Regions from separate parts of the Homo sapiens genome. Here regions 1, 2, 3, 4, 6 and 7 are each linked to region 5. The links come from fine-mapping of genetic effects on gene expression. A gene starts in region 5. Each other region holds a variant in brackets. All regions are shown on one strand. Distances are from middle to middle. Region 1 has its middle 15 kb from the start of ZNF892. Region 2 overlaps KCNIP3 (potassium voltage-gated channel interacting protein 3). Region 3 overlaps KCNIP3 (potassium voltage-gated channel interacting protein 3). Region 4 overlaps FAM95A (family with sequence similarity 95 member A). Region 5 holds the start of ZNF514 (zinc finger protein 514). Region 6 overlaps LOC442028 (a long non-coding RNA gene). Region 7 overlaps MRPS5 (mitochondrial ribosomal protein S5).

The links. PIP is the estimated chance that this variant, and not a neighbour inherited with it, causes the effect. A credible set is the group of variants that fine-mapping cannot tell apart.
Region 1: its variant is the best candidate, but not a certain one, in a credible set for the expression of ZNF514 in lung (GTEx, PIP 0.72).
Region 2: its variant is the best candidate, but not a certain one, in a credible set for the expression of ZNF514 in whole blood (TOPMed, PIP 0.83).
Region 3: its variant is the best candidate, but not a certain one, in a credible set for the expression of ZNF514 in blood mononuclear cells (TOPMed, PIP 0.85).
Region 4: its variant is the best candidate, but not a certain one, in a credible set for the expression of ZNF514 in skeletal muscle (FUSION, PIP 0.83).
Region 6: its variant is the best candidate, but not a certain one, in a credible set for the expression of ZNF514 in whole blood (TOPMed, PIP 0.79).
Region 7: its variant is the best candidate, but not a certain one, in a credible set for the expression of ZNF514 in whole blood (TOPMed, PIP 0.80).

What each region holds. Positions count from the first base shown.
Region 1 is chr2:95,190,470-95,194,534 of GRCh38, forward strand. It overlaps the pseudogene LOC100287523. Among named protein-coding and RNA genes, the nearest start is that of ZNF892, 15 kb to the right of the region's middle. The variant A/G (reference allele first, on the strand shown) is at 2,102.
Region 2 is chr2:95,298,795-95,302,859 of GRCh38, forward strand. The region is part of intron 1 of KCNIP3 (potassium voltage-gated channel interacting protein 3); the gene reads left to right. Among named protein-coding and RNA genes, the nearest start is that of KCNIP3, 3.5 kb to the left of the region's middle. RefSeq lists an enhancer at 1-186. The variant C/T (reference allele first, on the strand shown) is at 1,733.
Region 3 is chr2:95,315,313-95,319,377 of GRCh38, forward strand. The region is part of intron 2 of KCNIP3 (potassium voltage-gated channel interacting protein 3); the gene reads left to right. Among named protein-coding and RNA genes, the nearest start is that of KCNIP3, 20 kb to the left of the region's middle. RefSeq lists enhancers at 426-926, 3,319-3,820. The variant G/A (reference allele first, on the strand shown) is at 2,150.
Region 4 is chr2:94,751,982-94,756,046 of GRCh38, forward strand. FAM95A (family with sequence similarity 95 member A) reads right to left here. Exons shown (of 3, transcript NR_038409.1): 2 at 3,976-4,065; 3 at 3,345-3,648. Among named protein-coding and RNA genes, the nearest start is that of FAM95A, 7.2 kb to the right of the region's middle. The variant ACACT/A (reference allele first, on the strand shown) is at 1,869.
Region 5 is chr2:95,157,479-95,161,543 of GRCh38, forward strand. ZNF514 (zinc finger protein 514) reads right to left here and starts at 2,370. Exons shown (of 5, transcript NM_032788.3): 1 at 1,762-2,370. RefSeq lists a silencer at 2,197-2,446.
Region 6 is chr2:94,881,332-94,885,396 of GRCh38, forward strand. LOC442028 (a long non-coding RNA gene) reads right to left here. Exons shown (of 10, transcript NR_037597.1): 8 at 1-107. Among named protein-coding and RNA genes, the nearest start is that of TEKT4, 12 kb to the left of the region's middle. The variant A/C (reference allele first, on the strand shown) is at 1,889.
Region 7 is chr2:95,086,502-95,090,566 of GRCh38, forward strand. It overlaps MRPS5 (mitochondrial ribosomal protein S5), which reads right to left. Exons shown (of 12, transcript NM_031902.5): 11 at 3,885-4,021; 12 at 1-1,080. The coding sequence ends at 856. Among named protein-coding and RNA genes, the nearest start is that of MRPS5, 33 kb to the right of the region's middle. RefSeq lists an enhancer at 952-1,517. The variant G/A (reference allele first, on the strand shown) is at 2,423.

The sequences.
Region 1 (4,065 bases), 33 kb after region 5:
CTGTTGTTTTTCTTTTAAGGAGCTACCAATCAATCAGCCAGTATTTTGTATTTGTTCTTAACACATACAATACTTTCTTCTTAACTAGCACTCAAAGCTTTGATCTCTATTTGCTATTTATTTTAGACCAGAAGACTAGATCTAAGAGCCAGGACTCCACTCAAAGGCAGGATGTTTCTAAAAAAATAAAATCACTAAATACATTAATGAAAAACTCTGAAAAGATTTTCCACTGGGTCCTGCACTTATCCCTGAAAAGCCTGAGCGCAGAAAGAAGAAAAACCATTCAGGGAAACGCTGAAGAAATCTGCGCCCAAGGAGAAGGACTGAGGCAAAGATCTACTCTTGCCAAGAAAACTAACAGTAAGGGGAGGAACTTTGAATGCAGCATGTATGGGAAGACCCCATATAACCACGTAGTCGTCACCCACCATCAGAGGACTCACAGTGGAGGAAAGCCCCATGACTGTCAGGAATGCAGAAAAGCCTTTAGCTGTAGGAGTCTTAAGAAAAACCTGATGTCAGCCAGTGGTTCATGCCTGTAATCCCAGAATTTGGGAGGATCACTTGCGCCTACGAGTTTGAGACCAGCTTGAGCAACATAGTGAGACCTTGTCTCTATAACATTAGTTAAAATCGAAAAAAGAAACACCTGATGTCACACACTGGGAAGAGCCCCTTTGAATGCAATGAAAACTTTCTACAACTGATTAACCCTTACTGGGCATCAGTGAACTCATACTGGAGAAAGTCCTTATGAATGCACAGAGTGTGGGGAATCCTTCAGTGGGAAAGTTATTCTGACTGGCCACAGCAAACCCGCCCTGGAGAGTGGCCCTAGGAATGCAGGGGTAGGGTAGAGCTCTGTTGTGTAGGGAAAAGAAAGAGAGATCAGACTGTCACTGTGTCTACGTAGAAAGGAAAGACATAAGAGACTCCATTTTGAAAAAGACCTGTACTTTAAACAGTTGCTTTGCTGAGATGTTGTTAATTTGTAGCTTTGCCCCAGCCACTTTGACCCAGCAACTTTGACCCAACTTGGAGCTCACAAAAACATGTGTTGTATAAAATCAAGGTGTAAGGGACCTAGGGCTGTGCAGGACGTGCCTTGTTAACAAAATGTTTACAAGCAGTATACTTGGTAAAGGTCATCGCCATTCTCTAGTCTCAATAAACCAGGGGCACAATGCACTGTGGAAAGCCGCAGGGACCTCTGCCCTTGAAAGCGGGGTATTGTCCAAGGTTTCTCCCCATGTGATAGTCTGAAATATGGCCTCGTGGGATGAGAAAGACCTGACTGTCCCCCAGCCTGACACCCGTAAAGGGTCTGTGCTGAGGTGAATTAGTAAAAGAGGAAAGCCTCTTGCAGGTGAGATGGAGGAAGGCCACTGTCTCCTGCCTGCCCCTGGGAACTGAATGTCTCGGTGTAAAACCCGATTGTACATTTGTTCAACTCTGAGATAGGAGAAAAGCTGCCCTGTGACGGGAGGCAAGACATGTTTACAGTAATACTGCCTTGTTATTCTTTACTCCACTGAGATGTTTGGGTGGAGAGAAACATAAATCTGGCCTACGTGCACGTCCAGGCATAGTAATTTCCCTTGAACTTAATTATGATATAGATACTTTTGCTCACATGTTTTCTGTTGACCTTCTCCTTATTATCACCCTGCTCTCCTACTACATTCCTTTTTGCTGAAATAATGAAAATAATAATCAGTAAAAACTAAGGGAACTCAGAGGCCGGTGCCGGTGCAGGTCCTTGGTGTACTGAGTGCCGGTCCCCTGGGCCCACTATTGTTTCTCTATACTTTGTCTCTGTGTCTTATTTCTTTTCTCAGTCTCTTGTCCCACCCGACTAGAAATACCCACAGGTGTGGAGGGGCAGGCCACCCCTTCATGTTGGACCATTCATCCCTCATTCGACACAGGACAGTGCACACTGTAGAGATGCATCCCGAAGATAATGAGGGTGGGAAGGTTTTCTTTATGGCTCGTCCCTTAATCAGCAACAGAAAATTCATAGTGGAGACAAGCCCTATGAATGCATTGAATGTAGGAAATCCTTCCTCCAGAAAAGATGGCTCATTCACCATCAGAG[A/G]GTGCACCCTGGAGAGAAGCTCCACGAGTGCAGCATGTGTGGGAAAGTTCTCAGTCGCAAGTCCTCTATCATCCAACATCAGTGATGTTTATGCCAAACAGGCTTCGGGGTACCATGGAGGTGCTTCAGCCAGACAAGCAGTCCCCAGAGAGACTTAGCATGTTTTTGTTCAAGGTAATGACGATTTATGTTTGAGCACCTTCTATCAACTGTGTGGGTGGCAAGCCACCCAGGCACCGAGGCAAGAGACAGAAGACACGAGCTGTTCCAGTATAATAAAATATAAAACAAGAATTGTTATACCAGATATAGATCTTAGATATGATTATATATGAGTATCATTAATCATTAGTTGGTAGCAATTACTTTTTATTCCAATATTATGATAATCCTCACTCAATAATCATAGCCTAGGAAAAACCAGGCCATACAGAGATAGGAGCTGAGGGGACATAGTGAGAAGTGACCAGAAGACGAGAGTGCGAGCCTTCTGTTATGCCCGGACAGGGCCACCAGAGGGCTCCTTAGTCTAGCGGTGACGCCAGCGTCTGGGAAGACGCCCGTCACCAAGCGGATCATGGTCCAGCAGTAGCAAAAGGTGTCAAGAAACAACACCCGCTACTTAGCAGACCGGGAAAGGTGGGGGGGGGGGGGGCGTCTCCCTTTCCCTGGGGGAGTTTAGAGAAGACTCTGCTCCTCCACCTCTTGTGGAGGGCCTGACATCAGTCAGTCTCGCCCGCAGTTATCCAGAGGCCTAACCGTCTCCCTGTGATGCTGTGCTTCAGTGGTCACGCTCCTAGTCCACCTTCATGTTCCATCCTGTACACCTGGCTCTGCCTTCCAGATAGCAGTAGTCAATTAGTGAAAATACTAATAGTCCCTGATATGCAGAAATAATGGTGTAAGCTGTCTTTCTCTTTGTCTCCTCTCCCTGTCTGCCTCGGCTGCCAGGCAGGGAAGGGCCCCCTATCCAGTGGACACGTGACCCACGTGACCTTACCTATCATTGGAGGTGACTCACATTCTTTACCCTGCCCCTTCTGCCTTGTATCCAATAAATAACAGCGCAGCCCGACATTCGGGGCCACTACCGGTCTCCGCGCATTGGTGGTAGTGGTCCCCCGGGCCCAGCTGCCTTTTCTCTTATCTCTTTGTCTTGTGTCTTTATTTCTACACTCTCTCGTCGCAGCACACAGGGAGAGACCCACCGACCCTGTGGGGCTGGTCCCTACACAACTGCTTATCCTTATGCCTCCATTTGGTACCACAGTCTTAATAAATAGTCTCAATTAACCATCCCATACACTTCATTGGGATATCTCAAATTTGAGATGATGCCTGGAGGATCCCCAAATTGGTCAGAAGCTCTCCAATCAATATGCTTTGCAGGTGTTTGAAGGAGACCCTAAGATAGGGAACAGACATATTATGTATTTATTTATCGCAAGGCTGAATGCTGCAGGAGAGCAAGAACTCCTTCATATCTGTGCATTGCTGTGTTCCCAGTGTGGGGCCTGGCACTCATCACGTATTTTCTTTCTTTCTTTCTTTTTTTTTTTTTTTGAGTTGGAGTCTTGCTCTGTCGCCCAGGCTGGAGTGCAGTGGCGCGATCTCAACTCACTGCAACCTCCCCCTCCTGGGTTCAAGAGATTCTCCCTGTCTCAGCCTCCTGAGTAGCTGGGACTACAGGCGCCCACCATCACGCCTGGTTAACTTTTGTGTTTTTACTAGAGATGAGGTTTCACCATATTGGCCAGGCTGGTCTCAAACTCCTGACCTCATGATCCACCCGCCTCAGCCTCCCAAAGTGCTGGGATTATAGGCGTGAACCACCGTGCCCGGCCTCATCATGCATTTTCTAAACGAATGAATACCTGAGAACTTGAGCCAAAAATCAAATGCACTTATACAACTAGAAACTTTAGTAAGAAAATAAACATCAAAGAAAATGTGGTACTTATACA
Region 2 (4,065 bases), 140 kb after region 5:
ATGCAGGCAGGGCAGAGTGGAGAAACGTAGCGCCTTGCCCCAGGCTCACACACTACGGCGTCAGGGTGCACAGTGCAACCGTGCCCATAGGCAGAGACACATTGAGCGACCCTGCATGACTACAGAGATGGGAATTTCCAGAGTCAGGCTGCACACAGATGTGCACACAGCCAGCTCTGACCTCCAGCAGAAGACAGTCCTCCCCTCCTTTGCCTTTCCTCTGCGGGCCTTAACTGCCAAAGGTCACTCTGGGAGCTTGGCCACTCCTGCCCCTGCCAGACTGGCAGAGTGGGTGGCCTGAGTCCTGCACTTACATCTGGTTCTTCCCTTGGCCATTGTGACCCCACACTGCGCTCTACCCTCCCACAACCAGCTCCTGGGCCCCAGTGGGTCTCACTGTCCTTATGTCTGCTGGTGGCCTTCCTGTGGCTGGCCTGGCCAGGGAGGGGAGTGGGACCCACACCTCCTGGTGCTGGGCCCAGCAGAGACAGTGGTCCTAGGAGAAGCCACCATTAGGTTTCTCATCAAGATCAATGGGAGATTGTGAAAAATAACCTTCCTCTCTTGTGGCAGCAGGGACTGTAGTCAGAGCTCAGGTTGGGAGGTGTTCTGACTCCTCAGGGTCACGGTCAGTGGCTGTCCCCCAGTAACGCCCCATGACTGCCCGGCTCCCTAGCCTACTCCCCAGCCATTCATGAATTCTCACCTCACTCCTATGGGGAGGCGGGGAGGCACTGCCATTCCTATTCTAGACACTGAGGCTCAGAAAACTGGAACAGCTCCAGGACTCCATGAGCTTGATCCCATGAGCTCTTAGGAGAAAGGAGCGAAAGACCCGCAGTTTCTGCGACAGGCGCTGCTGTCGCGGTGTTGAGGCTGTGGTGTCTTCACAGCTCAGCCCGTGCACTGGGAACCCCTTTTGCCTGGCTTCCAGCCTTGTTGCAGGGCACTGTGCGAGATGGGCCCTAATTTGCTCCCACATTTCAAAAGACCCCAGGCTGCACTGGGAAGAAAGGGGCTCTGCCTCAGCCCTCCAGGTAGAGCCCAGGAGAAGGGCAGAGCTGAGAGCCAGAAGCCTGAGGGTACCAACGCCCATCTAGGACATTGTCTCCCGCATTATCTCCCTGGACCCTCACGCAGCCCACAAGGCAGCTGTTGGTATCATCCCCACTTCACAGATGGGGAAACAGAGGCCTGCCCCAGACTGCAGGCTACAAGAGTTGTGGCTGAGATTTGAACCCTGCTCTGTCTTACTCCAGAGCGCAGCAAGTCCCTAGGGCTTGGGGGTTGCGGAAGAAGACGCAGGAGGAGAAGGGCATGCCTTTAACCAGATGGCAGAGGAGGGGCCCATCCCAGCCGTGCGGCCGGTGGTCTGTTGTGCCCTCTGAGCCCTCCAGTGAGTGCACACAAGCCAGACTCCACCTGGCCGCATCCCCTGCGTTAGCCACGTGACCTGGAGCTAGCTGCCTCCCATTTTTGGACTGTGGATCCAGAGCTAGGAAGTAAAGGACCCCAACATTTTAAATTCAGGCTGCCTTGTCTTATCAAGACCTTCTGTGTGAGGCAGGGAACTGCTTTACTGACTTAGCAGAGGGGCCTTAGAGCCCCCCTGCCCTCCCCAGCCCACCCCTGGGCATCCCAGTGACTTCCAGGAGCAGCCAATGTGGCTTCTGCACGGAAGAAAGCACTCTCAGTTTCCAAGGTGAAGCAGAAGAGGGGAGAGAAGTTAGCA[C/T]GTCTTTCTGGCCTAGTGCCCAGACCTGGGGCAGGCAGGAGCCTGAGAGTCGGGGGAGGGCACAGCATGGGGCGAGTCCCGTGCTGCTTCCTGCCCAGGGCTCCCGGCCTCAGCTGACTGATGTTGCCTTTGAGCAGGTGCGTCTGTCATCTGAGATCAGCCCATGCCTTAGAAGGCCAAAGAGCAGCCCTGTGGCAGGGAAAGAAGCAAGGGGACCTGCAGAGTTGGAGAGGGAGCAGCTGAGCTGAGACGGGAGGGCAGCGTGGGGGTGGCGTGTCCCACACTAGAGTCGGCCCAGCCTCCCCCTCTGACCTGCCACCTCAGCTCTCTGCCCAGCATGCCCTCTCCATCAGCCTGGCCATGCCTGGGCCAGGCTCAGCCAGGAAAAGCAGCTGCTGGTCTTTTCTGGCCTCACCTCCCAGCCTGCCCAACGCCCCCAGCCTTCCCCAGCCTTTATCACATGGACAGTAGGCAGATGCCAGGGTAGGCAAGGGACAAGTCCCCTGCATCCCAGTCCTCTGCTGCTGGTGCCACATGCCCCTGTGCCCAGCTCTGTCGTGGGATCCTCTCTCAAGATGGGCACTCTGGACAGTGCTCCAGAGAACCAAACTGTAGCCCCACCTCTGCCCCACTGACTCAGGGCCTCAGTCTTCCCATCTGGGTCTGAGAGATGCTCACAGCATCTGCCAGGCCTTGTGATGAGCAGTGCAGGGCTGGGAGGCACGGGCCTGGCTGACTCAAGTCAGGGCCACTGCCAGCAGTGCCCCACATGTGCACACAAATGTCCATGGGTCTTGCGCAGAGCCCTGATCCTCACTGTGCGGGACTAAAGGACCCCGGGCAGGAGACAGGCATGGCCAAGAGGCATCATGGCTGTGCCTTGTTGGCTGTGAGCCCTGACTGCACCAGCAGACCTGGGCTCAGTCCAGGCCCTGTCACACACTGGCTGTGTGTCCTCTGACAGGTTACTTAGCTCATCTGTGCCACTGTGTCCTCATTTTCCTGGGGGAAGTATGAATATCACAGAACCCCCAGATAAATGTGATCCTATACCAACCAGCTTGGCCTGGCCCCTGGCACAGAGTGAGGCCTCCACACATGAAGGGAATACCTATGCCATCCCTTCTGACTGTTGAGGAGAGCCTGGGAAGGCCACCAAGAGGCAATTTGGCCATGGGCAACTCAAGTTCACCCCTGGGTTAACGTGACACCCTCACTGCCAGGCAGCATGGGGAGCTTGTCCTTGTCAAGGTGGCAGCCATCAGAGCAGGGGTGGACAGCCCAGCTCTCCTGCTCCAGTGCTGCCAGAGGGCTGGGGCCCAGGGCTGTGTGTGTGTGTGTGTGTGTGTGCGCGCTCATAGGTGTGTTTGCAGGCATGTGTACGTGTGTGTGTATGTGCATATGTGCACACATGCATCTTCAGGGACTCATGACAACCTCGGCTCCCCCGACAAGGCGAGCTGCCTTGCCTATGTCTGTCTGTGCCCAGGGGTGGGTGGAGAATCCAGGCTCCCCAAAGCTTCCCCATTCCATACCCTGGGGCCTGCACGACACAACGCCCACCACTGCTTCCTGCCATCTGTCCCGAGTGATGGAAATAGAGCCAGTGACAGCAAGCAGTGCTGGGTGGGCCAGTCTGCACCGCAGCAGCCGTGGACAGGGTGGGGGGTGGGGAGCCCCACATCTGAGTAGCCTGGATGTCTCATGCTGGCCCTGGCCTCGGTGAAGCCCTTCCGGAAAGGAAGGGGGTGAGAATCGGGGGACCCCCTTTGCCTTTCAGGCAAGGCCAAGAATTTTCTATCTGGAGGGACAGACACTCTAAACAAATTCCCCAAGCTGCATTTTCAGATCTATTGAGGAGCTTTATAAGAACAGAGTAGCCCAGCCCTCTCTGCATCAAACAATCCAGCTCCTGGGCAGGCAGATGGTGAGAGCCTCCCCACGTGATTCTGGCATGTGGCAGCTGAGAGCGGCACATTGGGCCTCCCTGCCAGGCATGCTAGGCTGTGGGTTTGGACAGCCAGACCCTCCCTGGGATCAGAAGGGCGAGGAACACTGACTCTCCCCCACTGGGGGCTTTGTCACCTTGCCTTCCCCTTAACCCTGTGAGGGCACATTGTCACCCCCATTTTGCAGATGAGTAAACTGAGGCTCGGAGCTGTCAGGTTCTCTGTCAGGGTCACCGAGCTGGGAAGCGAGGGTGCGGGATTCATGTAACTGGTTGGCCACAGACCCCTCCCACTGTCCTCGGCTGCTGGAAATCACATCCACCTGCCTTCGATCTCCTGCCCTGCCCCCAACTAGCCGTGCCCTCTGAGCCCACACCCAGGGGC
Region 3 (4,065 bases), 160 kb after region 5:
TTTATTGAATCTACGGTGTTTCGTTCTCAAGCAAATGCCAGAGGAGCCAGGAACAGAGGCTGTGAGGTGCACAGAGGGGACCACTGGCCCACCTGATCGTCCAGTGCCTCCTCGGCCCCAGCGCCCCTTGGAGGGCACTTGTGAAGCACTTGCTGTCCCACACTCCGGGTGGTTCCTCCCCAGGCCTCCCAGCCCTTACTCCCCCGATCCTGCCCCTCCACCTCCCTGACCCCTGAACTAATGGTTAACAGCCATCCATGAATCAGTGTAAACCTGTGCCTTCGGCCCTCTCTTCTTCAGACAATGTGGGCAACACATGTACCAGGAAGATGTCCCTTCTCCACGTCCTTCCCCTAGGTGGGCCTCAGTGTCACCTAGAGTTGGGGCCAACATTTCTTGCAGCTCTGTCTATAAGTCACCTCCGAAAGTTTTTCCTCCTCAGACGGCTTCGAGACCGTAGGGGGCGGGTGGGCTGTGGGGAAAGCGGCAATGCAGCAGGTACTGTGGGAGTCGCAGCCCCCGCAGGTACAGCCTCCCTGCGCCCTCCAGACCTGCCCTGCCTCGGGCCCCATCCACAGCACCTGGGCATGACGACAGAGCACTGTGTGCACATGCAGATACCAGTGGGGCTGGGCGAGAGGTTGATACTCGATTGCTGTTGGGTGTTTCGGGGCTCATGGCCACCTACTCTGTCTCTCTGTCTCTGTCTCTCTCACCATCAGGCGCTCCACCCCCACAGCAGCCCAGCAGTGGGAAGTTAGCTGAATGCCAACAGGAGAGATTTTTGGCATTGCTCAAAACCCAAGAGACCACAGATTTCCCCTCTGGGGGCCTGCCATGGCCCCGTAGAGCATTCCAACTTGCCTTAGACTCATCGTGTGTCATTGAATGTTCTGGGTCATTAGGCCCAAGGGGCAGCACTGCTTGTACTTGGCCTGCACCTGCGGAACAGCCTCTGAGCCGCACATTTAACTGTGGTGCACAGGAGGCCCGCCGGGCACCGCACCTTCCTTTACTGGCAGGGGTGCGAGGCGCAGCAGCTCGTCTTTCCCTCTGCAAGGGATCCCTTGGCTTGCCTGAACTTGCATATAACAGAAACCCCAAATAACAGTGGCTTGATCAAGACAGGTGCATCGGCTCCTATATGGGAAACATGGGGTGAGGCGGTGGCTGGCACTAGTTTGGCAGCTGGGGGACGTCAGTGTCAATGTCTTGGGTTCTTCTACCGTTCCCCTCACTGTGGCAATGTGGTTGCTTTGCAGCCCACACAGCCTCATTTCAGGCAACAGGAAGGAGAACCCAGGTGGAAGCGGAGAGTGGTGGTCCCCATGTCAGGAAGGCAGCACTCACAGAAGTCTCTGGAAGACAGATGCTTCCATTCCACTGGCCAGAGATAAGCTGCCCTCACTGCGAGGAAGGCAGGGGAATGGTGGAGTTTTCAGCTGGGCGCATTTCCATCTCCAACAGCATCTGAACCCTGCTGGTGAAACTCAGGAAGAATGAATACAGAACTGGCATTCTCAGCCACATGTGGCTTGCAGGGTTGTTTTGATGACTGAAGGCACTCACTGGCACCCAGAAAGACCTTAGCAAGCTGCCTGGCTGTTATCGCCTTTATTTATTGCTAAGTGCTCAAAAATGTGGAGGGCAGGGGGTTGGTCAGCTCCAGTCATGAATTTGGCTCTCCCTTCTGCTCCTCAGCAGAGGAACCGCTTCCCACTTCCCCTTCTGCATTTTAGAGAGGCACAGCAGGGCTGAGGGATGAGGCCAGTGGATAGAGGTCAGAGGTCAAGAGACAGCCTAAGGCTAGGGCCCTACCTATGCCCCCGTCCTACTCAGGGCCCCTGGCCCTGAGCCTCCTAGGCAGGGGACTGTGTGAGAGCAGGCTGTTCCCTGTCTGGCTGCAGAGAAGCCCTGGGGCCCGGGTGAGGCCCCTCTGCAGTGAGATCACACCCTCAGCTGATAATCACACCAGTGTCACCTCCTCTGTTGGTGCTGGGAGCTCAGGAGTGACGCCCACCCCATCCCCACGCCTCCCAGCCCAGGAAGCCGCAGGGGCCCTTCTGCCTCCAGGAACAGTGAGCTCCGGGGGCCTGGAGGCTGAGGCCAGGCACCAGGTGAAGGGGCCAGCCCTGTGGCAGGGGCAGGG[G/A]CTACCTGAGAAGGCAAACCCAAGGCAGGAGGACTGAGTGCACTCTGGCTGCCCCGGGGCTCTGGGCTGAGGGGCAGGCAGTCCCCGGAAAGGCTGGGAGAGCCAGAAGCAGGGACAGAAAGCAGAGGAGAGAAGGACAGGCCCAGAGCGCCCAAGACACTGGGGACAAGCTGAGACCAAGAGGAGAGACGCTGCTTTTGAGAGACAGAGACAGACAGACAGACCAGGAGTGGGGAGTCCTAGAAAAAGAAAGGTGTTGAGTGTCAGGCTGAGGAGAGGCTGGCAGAGGAGGTCAGGGAGCAGGCTTGTGGGGGTACCGCCTGCACAGTGGCAGGCAGGGCAGAGCTGAGGGCAGGAGTCGGGCGGATTAAGCCAGGCCCAAGGATGGCAGGGTGCGGCCCTGGCCCGAGGCTGCAGGAGTGCCAGCATGGCTGTGGGAAGCACCTGGGAGGCATCATCAGCGTCTTCTTCCGCTTCATCTCTGGGAACCTGGCTGGAGGTGAGGGTTGCTTTGGTGGGGCTGGGATGGGGCTACAGAAGGGACAGCTTTGGGCCGGGTCAAGGATTGGGCCTGCCTTATCTGGGGTAGGGGTGACAGGGGGCAGGGGTGGGCAGTGGCCCTGGGAGCAGGACCAGGAAGGACTGCAGTCTTTGCAGCCCACCCCTCCCCACTGTGACCTGGGGACAGTGAATGCCAAGCCTGGGATCCCCCACTCATGGGCCCAGGGAGGGAGAGCAGATGGGGAGCCGCTGGCTTCTCCATGGGGTACACAGACTCAGGACAAGCCTGGGCTGGGAGAGAGTGGGGTGGCTCTCAGGCCAGTCCTCCTCCTGTGCACACTGACTCGACCGCCCAGGCCCTCCCCGTCTCCTTCCCTCACTGGAAACCCTCTCCTCTTCCATCAAAGGCAGAAGTGGTGTCTGTGATGAGGATTAACAAAAATGGGCAGGTGTGTATTAAGACCTCTATACAGAAAGTGCTCAGTTAATGACAGCCACCTCCCAAAACCTATGAAACCTAAGCAACCTGGAGGCCTTGGCAGGGATGTAGGGGACTCCCTGAGTCGGTACTTGTGGGCCCAGGCCTGTGGGGAACCGGGAGGTGGGTGATCCACAGCCAGCCAGTTCCACTCCAGGCTCTCCCTCCTCTGCCTGCACCCGGGGCTGAGCAGGACCAAGACCAAGTCTCGGCCACGGGGCTACGAAGCAGGCACAGGGGTGGTGCCCTGCATGGGGGGACCTGGCATTTGCTGGGAAGGGTTGATATCAGGAGCTTCAGACCCTGAAAGGAGTGAGCATCAGCAGCTTGGAGTGCTGAGCAAGTGCTGTGGGGACGCGGAGGAGAGTAGGCTAAAGAAGTCAAGTGATTTCCAAAGAGAGATAAAATGATGTCCCTAAAACAAAGATGAGCTGGTGTAGACATGTGACATGTACATCCCAGGACCTGGTGCCACAAGCTGCCTATGCTGCCAGAAGATGCTGCCCCCATGCTGAGAGGTCACCTGCAGCCGCCGGCAGGGCTGGGCTGCCACAGCATCTCCAGGGACCAGGGGCTCATCCCCCAATCTTGTCCCTGCCCTGTCCTGAGTGCCTTGCACAGAGCCTGGCACATAAAATACCTGTCAAATTCATGCATGACATTTTGAGAAGCATGCAAATGTAAGATTGAGCATACACTCACGCATCCCCAAACAAGTAGAATAACAGGGGCTTGGAGAGCGGTAGAGCAGCACAGAGTCTGCAGGAGGAAGGCGGACCCTGCTGTGCGGAGGCTGGTGGAGCCGGGGGCTCAGTCTAGCCCCAGGTGGCAAGTTTGGTGGCTCTGAGTGGGGACTCGGAGAGCCCAGGGTTCCTGGGCCTTCCAGTTTTTCAAAAGAGAGGGGAATGCTGTGGCTACATGTGCTGTCCCTTAGCGG
Region 4 (4,065 bases), 410 kb before region 5:
GCTCCATTCAATTTAGATTTAGAATTCGTATGCTCCATGATACCTTTTTTGTCAGTTTGTTTTTGTTGGTCACAATTTGACTGCATTATGGTCACATTATGTGGTTTTAATGGTACTGATTTGGGGTACCTGTTATGACTTTCATTTTGGTCTAATGTGGCCAATGCTGTCCATTTCCCTGCTATATCCGTTATTCTCATCTTCTTCACTAAGGGAACATAGATTCACTTTTTCCAAGGAGCACTGTTTAAATGTATTTATGTGTTTATCCACATTTTATTATTTAATTTATAATTTTTTGAAAAATGGTCTCACTCTGTCTCCCAGGCTGGAGTGCAGTGGCATAATCAAAGCTCATGCAGCCTTGAACTCCTCATGTGATCTCCCAGCTCAGACTCCTGAGTAGGTAGGACTGCAGGCATAACAGGTGTGCACCACCGCACCCAGCTTTTGTTTTGTTTTGTTTTTGTAGAGACTGGGTCTCGTTATGTTACCTGGACTGGTTTCAAATTCCTGTGCTCAAGTGATTCTCCCACCTTGGCCTCCCAAATTGCTGGAATTACAGGCATGAGCCACCATGCCTGGCCCTGGCTTATGTCTTTAAATGAGTTTCCCAGTTTTTCTCATAACTGTAGTGAGCAGAGCTTATAGTCCTGGCCAATGTGAAATGCAGAATTCACTGCTTTGGATTTCTGAAAATCTGTTTGGAAAGGGGAGAGTTATTGTTCTTCTTTTCTCTTAACCAAGTTCCCTTTGCTCTCTCTGCTTGCTGCTCTCTTCAAATAAGATGAAGTGCCCTGAGTTGGGTTTAGCAACTTGAAGACAATTGGAACGATTGTCCCTACAACAAAACCTTCAATCTACAAGATTTCTCCCTCCCCAATGGCATGTAGGGTATCCCTGGCTGCCCTGGACTATTTCTGGACTTATTTCATGAAACTAACCCCTAGTAGAACTAAGAAACATTTTAGGAGAGATGTTTATAACAGATTAAATGATAAACCTAAAAAATGAATAAAACATATTATAAAGAGAATAGACAAAATGGGCTTGCAGATGCTGACTGGCCACACTCATCTTTGGCACTCGCCCCCATGGATGCCTCACCGACTGTGACACTTGGAGAGCTGGCAGCCATCACTCAAAAAATCAGAACACAGTGGCCTCTACTGCAGCATCAGGGAATAAAAAATAAGCTTGTCAGCTCTGAAGAAACATACTTGTGTGTGTGTGTATATATATATGTGTGTGTGTGTGTTTGTGTGTGACAAATTTATTCAGTGACTTTGAGGTATCTCATGCTAAACAGATAAAATGAATTAAAACTAGTGCAAAGTTACGGCAACAGTACTCCCCATTATGTATCCAGGGCATTGAAAATTGGCACACATCACAGATCCTTAAGTAATTCTCTGAACCAGGAGAACAGAGAGAGCTCACTGTATGTGCCAGTCACTGGACTGAGTGCTGTGCCTACAGGATCCCACTTGATGCTTGCAATAACCCTGCAAGATGAAAGTAAAAACTCACACACACACATATAAAAACTCACACACAAACACACACACTCACACACATATACTCACACACATAAACTCACACGCACACATATAAACTCACACAAACACACTCACACAAACACACACATAAACACACACTCACACACAAACACACACACATATAAACTCAAACACACATATAAACACACATACACACACACAAACACACACACATAAACTCACAAACACATATAAACACACACAAACACATACACACACATAAACTCACACACATACACAAACTCACACATAAACACACACACATACACAAACACACACACACACATAAACACACACATAAACACACAC[ACACT/A]CACACACATAAACACACACACACATAAACTCACACACACACACTCAAGCACACACTAGAAACTACAGAACAAAAAAGCACTGATAACTAATAGAAGTACAGTGCTGGCCAAGCAAAGTGGCTCATGCCTATAATCTCGGCACTTTAGGCCAGGAGTTCAAGACAAGCCTGGGCAACATAGCAAGACACCATCTCCACAAAACATTTTCTTAAATAAAAATCATTTTCAAAAACAGGTATAATGCCTAAGGACTCAGGGAAGCAATACGCCTGTGGCTGTATGGTAAGCAGCAGGCAAGGCTATTTGTGAGACCAAAGTGGTAGTGACTCCAGGGTTCCTTTGCACACTTAGCCAGGAGACTGGCTAGCTCAGCACTGCCTGGGTTCACTTTACCCTTCTACAGCTCTAAAGCTCTGGCAGGTGGGACCTAAGCATCAGAGAAAGTGCTATTATGCAGGACTCTCTTGACCGCAAGTGACTGACACCTAACTTGATCCAGCAGAACATTGAACTATTTGGCTCTACTTACTTAAAATGTCCATGAGTAGATGGGCTTCTGGCTCAACGGGATCAGGGGTCAACTAATATCAACCAAGGCTCATTCTGTCCCTTCATTTCCTGTGTCAGCTCTGCTTTTCTAGTGGCTGTTTTGAGACAGCAGCAAAAATGGCCCCATAAAGTTCACATCACTTACTTCCTTGCAAATAGCTATGCCAATAAAAAGAAAGCACCTCATTCCCAGCAGTTTCATCAAAAGTTCAGGGATGACTTCCATGAGCCCAGCTTGGATCACATGCCCACTCCTGAATGAATTACCCTGCTGATTGCCCAGGGTGGGTCAGCCTTCCCAAATGACATGGACTAGACATGGAGAAGTGGTCCTCCCGTGGGAAAAAAAAAAAAAAAAAAAAGGAAGGCTAGTGGCAGAGGAATATGAGTGGGAGGGCCTCATCTCTATATAAAAGTATGAGTGTATTTGTGTTCTTTTGTACATTCATTTGTAGTCACTGGGAAGAAAATGAGAAAAACCCACACGACTTTCTACATGCCTCTGTGCTTTGTTTTGAACACTGAGCTGTGAGAAATTTAGTTATTAAAACAAAACTTTGAAACAATATAACAATTTGGGACAATGGGGACACTTAGCTGATGCAGCACAGGTGAGCAGTTCTTCTTTCGTGCCCATGAGGACACAATTCCCAGGAGGCTACCTGGGGTCTCCTAGGACAAGCATGTGGGCACCCACTGGCTGCAGTTCCACCTTTCCTTCCCTGGACTCTCAGGAAGACACGAGTTCTGGATTCAGCTGAACTGAGCTCAAGTTCAGGCTCTGTGACTCACTGGCTCTGTAATTCTGGGTAAGTCTCTTGCTCTCCTTGAGTCTCATATAATCCTTGGTAAAATGGAGAGGTAGAGTTATTGTTAGGTTTTGAAGGCAAGGCTAGGGTTAAAGAAAGACAGAGAGACATGGTTGGTGGCTTCAACAGCAACACCTTTATTACTAGCAAAACCCTGCAGAGGAGGAAATCAGCTTAGTGCCATCACCAACTGCCGCTCACAGGCTGGGGCGATCATGGGACTGGGAAGGAGGGGTCTGGGCGGTAGAGCTTGCTGCCCGGCAGGATATGGCAAGGATGTTCCTGCAGTCAGGCTGTTGGGCCTTCGCCCGGGAGGATGCGATAAGGATGTTTCCGCAGTCAGGTGGTCAGGAAGGATGCTTCTCATGGCCCGAGTTCCCAAGGAATGTTTCATTCTGACCAGGGTTTGCAAAATGGCTGCAGGATTACAAAATGGTACAGGTTAGACTAACAGCAACATCTCCCAGGTAGACAGTTCTATAAAGTAAACTTCCCTTGAGCATCTACACTGTACCAGACATGGTGCTAGGACCCAGGCCACAGGAGGAACAGAACAGATGAGGTCCCTGTCATCCTAGTGCTCATGTTTGATGAAGGAAGCTAACAGGTCATAAGACCAGCTCAGATGGTGGTGGTAATGAAAGACATTACCAGAGTGAGATGAGCTAGAAAGAAACCAAAGGAGCTGTTCCAAACACAGTGACAGGGAGAGACCCCTCCAAGAGGTGACTTTTGAGCACAAACCTGAGATATGTGGAGGGGGCCATGGAGAAGGACCAGCCCCTGAAGCCATCTCAGGATTAAAGACCCAGCAGCAGGAGGGCAATAGAATGG
Region 5 (4,065 bases):
CCAGCACACACAGCTCTCAGACTTCCCAAGCCTGAGACCCAGAACAGCTCTGAATGTCACCTCCGTTGTTCTGAGGACACCAGTGGATCAAAAGGATCTGAGAGGCAGCTTCTAGCCTTCAAACATTGAGAGAAGTGCCCCTGTACACAGCTGCATGAGGCTCCCACCTGTCCACAGCCCACATCAGTCTACAAGTGAGTGAAGTGTGACCAGTCTGGCCATACCACTGAAGTTATTTACTGGGCATACTGTATGCAGGTCATCTCCTAGGACTTTTGGAAATATAAATATGGAAAAGAACTTCAAGGAACTTTAAATCTAGCCTACAGGTTAACAATTACACAAGACCCAAGGCAAGGCCATGCAGGATTATGAGGCTTTAAGGGGAGGAAGTTACACCTCTCCCCTCATCCTTGGGAACCCAGCTCAGAGGCCACCTCTTTCTGAGAAGCTGCCCCTGGTGTTCCCAAGCTCTGTTAGGTCTCTGCAACACACTTGAGAGCTCCTTCATTATAAAGCTTTGCATCATACTGTTCATAAAAGCCTTAAAACAAACAAAAAAACTAACCCAAACCATGCCAGAGAAGTAGTTAAGGCTAACAACATGGGTGTAAGCATAGCACAGTTAGGCATTCCTCAAGCTTCATGTGTGTGTGGATCCCTGAGGATCTTGTTAAACTCTGGCTCAAGACTTGCTAAGACACTGTTTGAGGATGTGTGGGGCCCCAGAGTCTGCAATTCTAGAGAACTTCTGGGCAATGCCTCTGCTGTTCCCAGAGCCACACTGATTAACAAGGGTATAAAGGAAAAAAGAGGGGGTGGGAAGCCCACGGACTGGGCCCAGTTCTTCCACTGGCCAGTTATGTGTCCTTGAGCATGTGCACTGAAGGATGAACAGTCGGATTAAAATGCCCACCTGGTTAGAGATAGGACGTTCTAAACTTAGGACTGGCTTAAAACCTCCTGGGTCACCTGGATTGCCCTGCCCCCAACGCTATTGGGGGAAGGGGCTCAGAGGAGATACCCACCATGTACACTGCTGACCTTATACACCGCTGAGCTAGAACGACTGGAAGAACCTTATTAGTGAGGTGATTAAGGAGGTGGATGACAAGGCTCCAAATGGCCCTATCGTCCTCTGATCCCTGGCCAAGGGCCACTCCCTCTTGGGTTTGCTTGCCCTCTCCCTGCCGCAGCAGGAAGAGATCAGATCCTCTTCTGCTCTCCTCTGGCCATTGGGACAATTTTCCATGGCCATCCCCTCCACCTCCGCCACGGTCATCTAGAGACCCCTGCCAGACCCAGGAGACTGCGGCTTCAGCCTTCTGGGTCTGGAAGGTTAGATGTCGCCACACGGAAGGCAGATGAAGTACAGCCTCACCCTTCAGTGGGATTCCCCGGCCTCTTCCTGGGGTCCTCCTGATATCGGGCTCGGTACTAGCTCCCCAAGAGGGCTCCTGGCCCTCTGCACGCTCCAGAGCCAAACCTGATGCTGTGGAGTCCATAGCTGGGGCTAAGGAGCGGCGTCCTTTCACTAGGTCCAAATCTCTGTCTTTCGGCCACAGCCCTGTGGTCCTCCCGAGGGTTCAGGGAGCGGGACGCAGGCTGGGGCTGCCTGGGGGACACGGGGCATCCCCACTAGGCGCGGCGGGGCCAGCGGACCTGCAGGGCCCAGAGCAGGGCCGGCAAACCCCGGTGCGCCCAGCGCGGCGCACTGCTGCCCGGGGTCGTGCTCTTCCCTCGCCAAGTCCGGCCTCCTACCCCCGGCTCGGCTCCTCCTCAGGACCAGGCTCTGGAACCCAGCTCCCACGTGGATCCACACGCACAGTGGGCTCAGACTACCAGGAGACACGGCCACAGCCACGCCCGCGACGCGAGGGCCCAGCGCTCTTCAGCTGCCCGGAAACAGCAGGGATTCGGTGAGAGCCTCACAGGAGCAGGGACCGACTCTATCAGCCCGGTTCGCCCCGCTGTCCCTGCCTAGCTCCGGCCTGCACAGTCCCTAGCGGGGGGCACTCGGAGGGACACACCCAGCTCTGTAAGGGGCCGGGGCGCGGGCCCAGTACAGGTCTGCGCGCCCGCAGTCTCCGAACGCTCACAGGACCAGGCCCCGCCCGCCACCCCGCGCCAGCCCCCGCCCGCCACCCCGCGCCAGCCCCCGCCCGCCACCCCGCGCCAGCCCCCGCCCGCCACCCCGCGCCAGCCCCCGCGTCCGCCCCGCGCCAGCCCCCGCGTCCGCCCCGCGCCAGCCCCCGCGTCCGCCCCGCGCCAGCCCCGCCTCCCGAGGCCGTCCCGAGCTTGCGCAGACGCGGCCGCCGCCGGGGCCCTTCAGAGCCAGCGCCGGTGGCGGGGTGCTGGCGCGGCGAAGCTGGAGAGGCGGGGCTCGCGGGCGCCTGTAGGACCTCCGCTGGGAGGGGCCGTGCTCGCCGGCCACGCGCCGGTTTTCACTCCGCTCTCCCCCAAGGGCAGGGACCTACAAGCATTTCCCTTCTCGCGCGTGACTTTGGTAGCTGAGCCTCATATCTCTCTCGTTTTTTGGGGGGAGGGGGGAGACAGCCTCACTCTGTCGCCCAGGTGGGAGTGCAGGGGCGCGCTCTCGGCTCACCGCAACCTGTCTTCTGGGTACAAGTAATTCTCGTGTCTCAGCCTCCGTAGGAGCTGGGATTACAGGTTCCCGCCACCACGCCCAGCTAATTTGTTGTATTTTTAGTGGAGACGGGGTTTCACTATGTTAGCCACGCTGGTCTCGAATTCTGACCTCAGATGATCCTCCCGCCTCAGCCTCCCAAAGTGCTGTGATTACAGGTGTGAGCCACCGCCCCCAACCTGCATATCTCGATGTAAGGCTATTCAACAGAAGCCGCGTTCCTACCCTGGATCTGCTGAGTGAGGATTTCCAGGAGGCTCTCCTGGCGTGCCTAGGGGATACTGGGGACTCAGTGCTAGATACTGCTTCTACAGGCTGCCCCGTGCCTCTTGCCTTTCTCCATCTGCCCCTGAATTCAGCGAAGGGTGCTGAAGAACAAAAGAGGACTTTGAACGCCCTCCTACTCCAGAAACAAATATCATTTAGGACCCAAAAGAAATGGAAAAACGGCCTGCTATGGTCTGAATGTATGTGTCCCCCTCAAATTCATATGTTGAAACCTAACTCCCAAGGTGATAGTATTAAGAAGTGGAGCCTTTGGAAGACTCTGCCCTCATGAATGAGATTAGTGCCCTTTAAAAACAGCCCTTAGACCGGTCGTGGTGGCTCACATCTGTAATCCCAGCACTTTGGGAGGCCAAGGCGGGCGGATCACTTGAGGTCAGAAGTTTGAGACCAGCCTGGCCAACATGGTGAAACCCTGTCTCTACCAAAAATATATTTAAAAATTAGCTGGGCGTGGTGGTGCACGCCTGTAATCCTAGCTACTCAGGAGGCTGAGACAGGAGAATTGCTTGAACCCGGGAGGCAGAGGTTGTGAGCCAAGATCGTGCCACTGCACTCCAGCCTGGGCGACAGAGCAAGACTCCGTCTCAAAAAATAAATTAAATAAATAAATAAAAATAAAAACGGGCCTTAAGCCCCCTTTGCTCCTCCTGCCATGTGAGGACACAGAAGGTGCCATCTATGAGAAACGTACCCTCACCAGCCCCTGAACTGGCTGGCACGTTGATATTGCATTTCCCAGCATCCAGAACTGTGAACAACAAATTTGTGTTGTTTACAAATTCCCCAGTTTAAGACACTCTGTTATAGCAGCGCCAATGCCTAAGACACAGTCTGAGTATTAAAACGGTGGTTTTCTGGAGGCAGTCCTCAGCCAGAGAAGGGCCACTTGTGAGGACAGAGAGATTGGTTTATCAACCCTATTTAGGAGTTCAGGACAAAATAACTTACAAAATCAAGGCAAAGACAAAATAACACGAAATCAAGGCAAAGAGACCATTCTCCTTTCCTGCTTTTGCAGTCTCTGTTTCACTTTTCTGCCAGCACTTCCAGTGGCACAGATGGCCAGGATGGCGCAGCAAGCAAGCCCTTTTCCACGCAGGGGGACATTGTCTGGGAACCATGGCTGATAT
Region 6 (4,065 bases), 280 kb before region 5:
CAGGAACCACAGTCGCAGACCTGGAAGAAGCAAGGATCCTCCCCAAGAGTCTGCAGAGGGAGCGCATTTCTGCCCACACCTTGATTTTGGACTTGTGGCCTCCAGAACTGTAAGAGAATAAATTTCTGATGTTGTAAGCCATCACTACAGCAGCCCGCGAACACTAACGTAGCTCAATACGTCCAGGCTCCTCTCTCTGTTTGTTGTTGTTCTAGGTTTTTCTGAGACAGGGTCCGGCTCTGTCCCTCAGGCTGAAGTGCAGTGGCACAATCACAGCTCACTGTAACCTCCATCCCCTGGGCTCAAGCCATCCTCTTGCCTCAGCCTCCCCCCACAGCTGGGACTACAGGCAGTGTTGCCATGGCTGGCCAACTTTTAAATTAGGTAACCCTTCCCAATAACTTTCACGATTAGTTAACATCTTCTACCTTCCTATTTATTTTCCCCTTTTTAATACAAACACATGCCCATTAAATAAGCAAAATAGGAAAAAATTTTAATCACCCAAAGCCCTACCATCTACTTACCAGAGAGACAATAATGGCACAAGGATATACTGCCAAATTACACTAACTTTTAGTAATCCAAAGCAATAGAAAAATCTCCAGTTTTCAATTTATTCTTCTTAGATTTCTAATCAAGAAAACCTATTTTCTATACTAATGCAAATACATACAAAAGGAAAAGACACACTTATGAAGCAAAGGGATGAACTGGAGTCCTAATGTTACGAGAGGCTGGTAGTCATTTATTTGTCATCACTGAGGTATTTTCAGAAAATAGCCATGGTTCCCAGAACTTTAACAAGCACAATGATCCACTCTTAGATACTTGAAAGTCAGATAAGAAGACATCTATCCCTTAACTAGTTGTTATGCACTATATGTGAATAAAACCATATAATTTAAATTTCCTCAATTAATTCTCACAGACAGTACGCAACCTCACATCACCATGATCTTTTACATAAATGTCAATGTTCTATTGTAAATCGTGACAGACTATCTACATAGAATACTCATGATTTACAATTTGAGATTGTCAACCCAGCCAGTAACCTGTGTAGCACTGAATTCAAATACCAGAAAGAGGACCCAGATTCCCTCACCACCTAGCAGAGCTCAAGTGAGCTACACAGCCCGGTAGGAAATGGGGACTAAGTAAAAGGTTGTAAGCAGGTACTACTATAGTCAGATGAGTTTTTGACAGGTTATTCTAAAAGCACTGAGAAAAGAAAACTGTTGTAATATTCCAGATAAGATCACTTGGTCTGTAAAAGGACAGTGTCAAGGATATAGAAAAGAACCATCAAGGAATTTCAGAGGGTAACCTGGATGTGATTATATAGTACCACATCAAATGATCATCAAGCTCAAAGAAGGCACAGGGGAGCAGGAGGCTGCTTTCCCCAGGTACTGTCTTTCCCAGGCTTGCCCAGCAGTCCTGGAAACTGACATACACACACACACACACACACACACACACACACATATACACACACACACATATATATACTTGTTCTTTGCCATCTGATCACACTAGAAATGCCTGAAAATAAACCAGTTCCAGTATTAGTACAAACACTGTGACTAGTGTCCTGAGGACCGCTTTGATTGATCTCATTATCCCTGCTTTCTAATCTAACCTCCATCTCCTGGGCTCAAGCCATCCTCTTGCCTCAGTCTCCCCCCCATAGCTGGGACTACAGGGAGTGTTGCCATGTATTAAATATTAAATCTGAAAATTAAGTGAGAAAAGATTTAAAGAATGGCAAAAAGAGACAGGAAGAGAGATTTTAGGATGTTACTGCTGTGTTGGTAAGAGATAAAAAATAAATGTCTTCCTCCAGCGTGGCAATACCTCAAGGATCTAGAACTAGAAATATTTG[A/C]CCCAGCCATCCCATTACTGGGTATATACCCAAAGGATTATAAATCATGTTGCTATAAAGACACATGCACACGTATGTTTATTGCAGCTCTATTCACAATAGCAAAGACTTGGAACCAACCCAAATGTCCATCAATGATAGACTGGATTCAGAAAATGTGGCACATATACACCATGGAATACTATGCAGCCATAAAAAAGGATGAGTTCATGTCCTTTGTAGGGACATGGATGAAGCTGGAAACCATCATTCTGAGCAAACTATCGCAAGGACAGAAAACCAAACACCACCATGTTCTCACTCATAGGTGGGAACTGAACAATGAGAACACGTGGACACAGGAAGGGGAACATCACACACCGGGGCCTGTCATGGGGTGGGGGGAGGGGGGAGGGATAGCATTAGGAAATATTCCTAATGTAAATGATGAGTTAATGAGTGCAGCACACCAACATGGCACATGTATACATATGTAACAAACCTGCACATTGTGCCCATGTACCCTAGAACTTAAAGTATAATAAAAATAAAAAATAAAAAAAAAAGTCTTCCTCAAGTTTACCATCAAAAAGTGCTATACATGATTTGCAAGTATTTTCTTCCATCTTGTGGGTTGTCTTTTCAGTTTCTTGATGGTGTCCTTTGAAGTGCAAAAATGTTTAATTTTGATGAAGTCCAATTCATCAATTTTTATTCTTGTTGCTGGTCTCATATTTAAGAAAACTTTGCCAAATCCAAGGTCATGACAACTTACTCCTGTTTGCTTCTCAGGATTTTATAGTTTTAGTCCTTACATTTATGTGGATTCACTCAAAATGGATCCATTTGATCCATTTTTTTTTTTGCATCGTTTTTGTACATGGTGTTGGGTAAAGGTCCTACTCCAGGTTTTGCATATGTTTACATATCTAGTTGTCCCTGGGCCAGTTTTCAAACTTCTTTCCCCACTGAATAATCTTGGCACCCCTGTCAAAAATCAGTTGGTTATATATGTATGGGTTCATATCTGACTGTCAATTCTATCCCACTGGTCTATACATCTACCCTTCTGCCAGTATTATATTGTCCTTATTACCATTGTCTTGTAGTAAGTTATAAAGTCAGTAAGTATGAGTTCTCCTACACTGTTCCTCATTTTCAAAAGATTATTTTGGCTATTCTCAGTCCCTTACAATTCCATATGAATTTGAGAGTCAGCTTGTCGATTTTACAAAGAACTCATCTGGGATTCTGACAGGGATGAAGTTAAATCTGTAGATGAGTTTACGGAGGACTGCCATCTTAAATGTTAAGCCTTCGGTCCATGATCATGGGATACTTTTACATTTATTTAGATCTTCTTTCACTTCTTTCGACAATGTTTTATAGTTTTCAGAGTACAAGTTTTACACTTCTTAAATTTATTAGTAAGTATTTTATTCTTGTTGATGCTATGATAAATGAAGTTGCTTTCTTAATTTCATTTTCTGATTGCTCATTGTGAGTATGTAGTACTCAGTTAAAGTGTGTCAAATACTATTGATTTTTGTATATTGATCTTGTATCCTGCAACCCTGATGAACACAAGGGATTTGTATCTAGAATACATATGGAAGAATTACAATTCAGTAAATAAAAAGACGAAACAACCCAATTAGAGATGGATAATTCAAGAATGGATAAACAAACTGCAATACATGCAAACAAATGGAATATTATTCAGCAATTTGAAAAATAAGCTATCAAGCCATGAAAAAAACACAGAAGAACCCTAAATGTATACTGCTAGGTGAAAGAAGCCAGTCTGAAAAGGATACATACTACATGATCTATTACATGACATTCTGGGAGAGGCAAAATTAGAGAGAGTGAAAAGATCAGTAATGACCGGGGGTAGGAGAAAGAGGAGGAGGAGGAACGAATCAGTGGAGCACAGGAGATTTTTAGGGCAATGAAATTGTTCTACATAATACTGTAATGGTGGGTACATGACATTATACATTTGTCAAATCCAAAAATTTATGAAACACAGAGTGAACCCTAATGTAAACTATGAACTTCAGATATAAGTATCAGTTCATCAAATCTAATAAATGTAGCACAGTAACGCAAGATGTTAAGAGTCGGGAAGACTGGGCGGGGGCATTGTAGGGGAGCATATGTGAACTCTCTGCACTTTTCTATTTTTTCTAAAACTG
Region 7 (4,065 bases), 71 kb before region 5:
AGAAAACAGACTGGAAAAAAAATAAACAGCGCCTCAGGGACTCACGGGACAATAGTAAAAGATTCAACATTTTGGTCATCAGTGTCCCAGAAAGAGGATGTGGGTGGGGCAGAAAGAGTATGCAAAGAAATAAAAATATATATATTCCACAGAATGGGTAAAAACTTCTGTAAAGCATGTATGATAGGGGGGCTTATATCTAGAAACTATAAGGAACTCAATAATAATAAAAAATAACTTTTTAAATGGGCAAAGGCTCTGAATAGACATTTCTCCAAAAAACATATACAAATGGCCAATCAGCACATGAAAAGATGTTCAACATCATCAGCCATCAGGGAAATACAAGTCAAAATTGCAATGGTATACAATTAATATACCATTTAACATTCCCAATAGTAGCCTACAACTTCCATTTCCACTGTGGAAAACGGTTTGGAAGTTCCTCACGGTAGTCAAGTTACTTAACTGCTCTGTAAAATGAAGTTAATCACATTCACTTTGGATGAATGAGTTCATATATATTAGCTATAATTACTACAGCAATTATCATTGTGTACATTATTACTGATTGGGTCAAATTATTAACCCCGTCTCCCTAATTCATTTACTTTTGTTACTTTGGATGAATATTTAAAGTAGTCTTGAACTGAGATATGTATGTAAAGGTTCTATCACATTGGCATATAACATGTGCTCAACAAATGAAAGCTATAATTATTTATTTCCAAAGAGTTTAAAGATTAAACTTCCCTCAAAACAAACAAAAGGCAAGGTAACATCCCAAGCTGTGAGGGGCTGAGTCTCTCCTAGGTGCAGGGCAGCACAGGAACTGGCTGCACAAGGCCAGAGAGGTTACGTGGCGGCTCTCTTCAAATTAGACCACACAGAGCGCTTCATTCCCTGTGCAGTCTTCACATCTTCCCAGTCCAGTTTGACGTCTGGAACCTCATCTTCTGGCTCTGGATCCTTCCTCAAGGGCCCCCGGGGGGACGCAACCACAATGGGCAGAGGGCCACATTCCTCCCGGATTTCCACAACATGGAGGCCCTTCTTATCAGCCAGCTGTTGATGGGTTTCCTAAGCAAGACCAAATTCAGAACAGGTTAGGTCTGAAGTACATTTGCAACATAAAGAGCAGGAACTTCCACAGGCCACAACAGTACAGCCTGGGGGTATTCAAAGGCCATTTCAGTGGATTTGGGTTAATGTGTTTTGTGGCTAAACTCTAATAACCTGTCATGGGTGGAGTCATTTCAGCCTCATCTGCTGCATCTGCCCACCCCAAACTTGGATAGAGGAAGGGCCTTGGCCTCTGGTCTCTTGCCTTCTAAACCCTCCTGATTATGCACCATGCTGTGCCAAACACTGAACTTGAATCTCACCAACCCCCTAGATCTAACTACCAATTTACAGTAAATATAGGGGAGATAAGACACTAAGGACCCTACAGGTATTTTAGTCAGCAACAGGCCAGGAAGCACTACAAAACAAACAACCTGGTTTCCTCAACAAAAAATCATAAGCGGGGCGGGGGTGGGGGAAGAGGAGGGGAACCTATTTAAAAGGCATAGCAAAAACATACATTAACCTGTTCTGCAACCTGATTCAAACACATTGTGTAAAAAAAAAAAAAATTTTTTTTAATCTAACAAATGGAATTTGCTCATTTGTATGAACATTGATTGGATATTTGATGATACAAGTTACTGTTAACTTTTTAGGTATGATAATAGTATTACAGGGTATTTTTTAAAATCCTCATCTTTTCGAAGATACATACTAAAATATTTAGGGTTGAAATAAAATGTCTGAGATTTGGTTCAAAATAACTGGGGGTGTACTAAGAAGCAAGACTGGTCATGAGCTGGGTAACAGGGCCATGGGGATTCACTGCAGAGGGAAGCCACAGAGATCTGGAAGCAGGCAGATTAGTTCAGTAGACGTTATTCATGGTACAATGACATACCTGCTATGTCAATCCCGTGATCCCAGGCCTTATGGCTGCCTTGCACTATTCTAATTATATATCTAATGCCCTGCAGTATGTGTGAAATTAGAAAACAGATGAGCCATTTCATAAACAAAATAATTTATATTGGTGTATCTTTCAATCAAAGGCATATCACCTAAAGTGGTGGCATCTTTTCCTTTTTGAGTGACATATTAAATAATGCAACCTTTTATAGCTGATGGCATTTTAGGAGAGATGACATATGGTAACTATATCAGAAGGTTTAAAAGACTAAAAGAAAACAAAGATATCACATAAAAGAACAAGTCTAGGCTGGGCGCGGTGGCTCACGCCTGTAATCCCAGCACTTTGGGAGGCCAAGGCGGGTGGATCACGAGGTCAGGAGTTCAAGACCAGCCTGACCAACATGGTGAAACCCCATCTCTATTAAAAATACAAAAATTAGCC[G/A]GGCATGGTGGCACGTGCCTGTAGTCCCAGCTACTCAGGAGGCTGAGGCAGGAGAATCGCTTGAACCCGTGAGGCGGAGGTTGCAGTGAGCTGAGATGGAGCCACTGCACTCCAAGCCTTGGTGACAGAGCAAGACTCTGTCTCAAAAAGCAAAAACAAACAAACCAAAAACCAAAAACAGAACAAGTCTACTGGATCATAAATACAACCTATCTAAAATCAACATCTTAATTAAACCTCTAATGTTTCAATTTACAAGTGCTCTGAAGGGTGTTTTAGACAGTAACACACACAAAAGCTGTTCAGAAAACAGAAGGCTTTTACCCAAAGCCTTCTTTTTCTTTTAATTTTCCTACTTTAAACAGAGACATGTAAAATTACTCCATGGATCACTTTACCTAAAACCCACCACTGTACTCCTGAAATGTCAGGAAGCCTGCCAAAGTCCTCAGCTAACAGAGTTCAGCAAATGGAGCCTATTGAACCTGGTTGTCTTTTCTGTTCATCCACCTATGCTAAGGTCTACCCATCCTTTCAAGAGACAGGCCAGCCCTCCTGGGCAGGTAGGGGAGCTGCCCAAGAATGGGGGCCCGGTGCAGTCACAGCCCTGCCCTCCATGGTGGGTGATTGGGAGCCGGGCCCAGGGCTCCCACCTATGAGGAAAAGTAACCTGATATGTTAATGTTCATAGTTCCCTACCAACCCAGGCATCAGTCCGAACCACCTACACAGGTAACAGGGAACTGACTGTGCCTGCCCTGTGTGCAGAGGTGCCCTGGGTGCTTCATCCTAGCCCCAACTGAAAGGACTAAATTAGGAAATGAACTTTCTCTTTTGATTTTACTTTTCTATACTGTTGGAGCTTTAGAACAAGCAGGTGTTATTTTCATAATAACATGTAGATTGTAATTATTGGCTTTAAAAATGCTGCTTAGAAAAACCCATGAAGTACTTTTTAAAAGGTAATTTTCAGGCCGGGCGCGGTGGCTCACACCTGTAATCCCAGCACTTTGGGAGGCCGAGGCGGGCGGATCACGAGGTCAGGAGATCGAGACCATCCCGGCTAAAACGGTGAAACCCCGTCTCTACTAAAAATACAAAAAATTAGCCGGGCGTAGTGGCGGGCGCCTGTAGTCCCAGCTACTTGGGAGGCTGAGGCAGGAGAATGGCGTGAACCCGGGAGGCGGAGCTTGCAGTGAGCCGGGATCCCGCCACTGCACTCCAGCCTGGGTGACAGAGCGAGACTCCGTCTCAAAAAAAAAAAAAAAAAAAAAAAAGGTAATTTTCATGAACTTGTCAATGGATTTAACTAAACTGATGCAGTCACAGACAACAAAGAATGCCCAACTCCTCAGGTGGCCCCAGGAAAGCATCTCCAGGAGGCCCCAGGGCATCGTAGCCCCAACACACACAACTGAAATACAAACTAGAACCTCTGTTTCAGACCCCGGGAAAGGATTACCTGTCTGGAGAGCCCACGGAAGAGGCCCTGGGTGAGGCTGAGCATATTAATGGACCCAGAGACCTTGGCATACATGTCTTTGATGCCAATGAGCCGGCAGATGGTGATGATGGCCCTGTGGCAGCGGAGGCCGTAACCTAGAAAAGGAGAAACCGGGTGAAACACAGCCCACTCGCCTGCA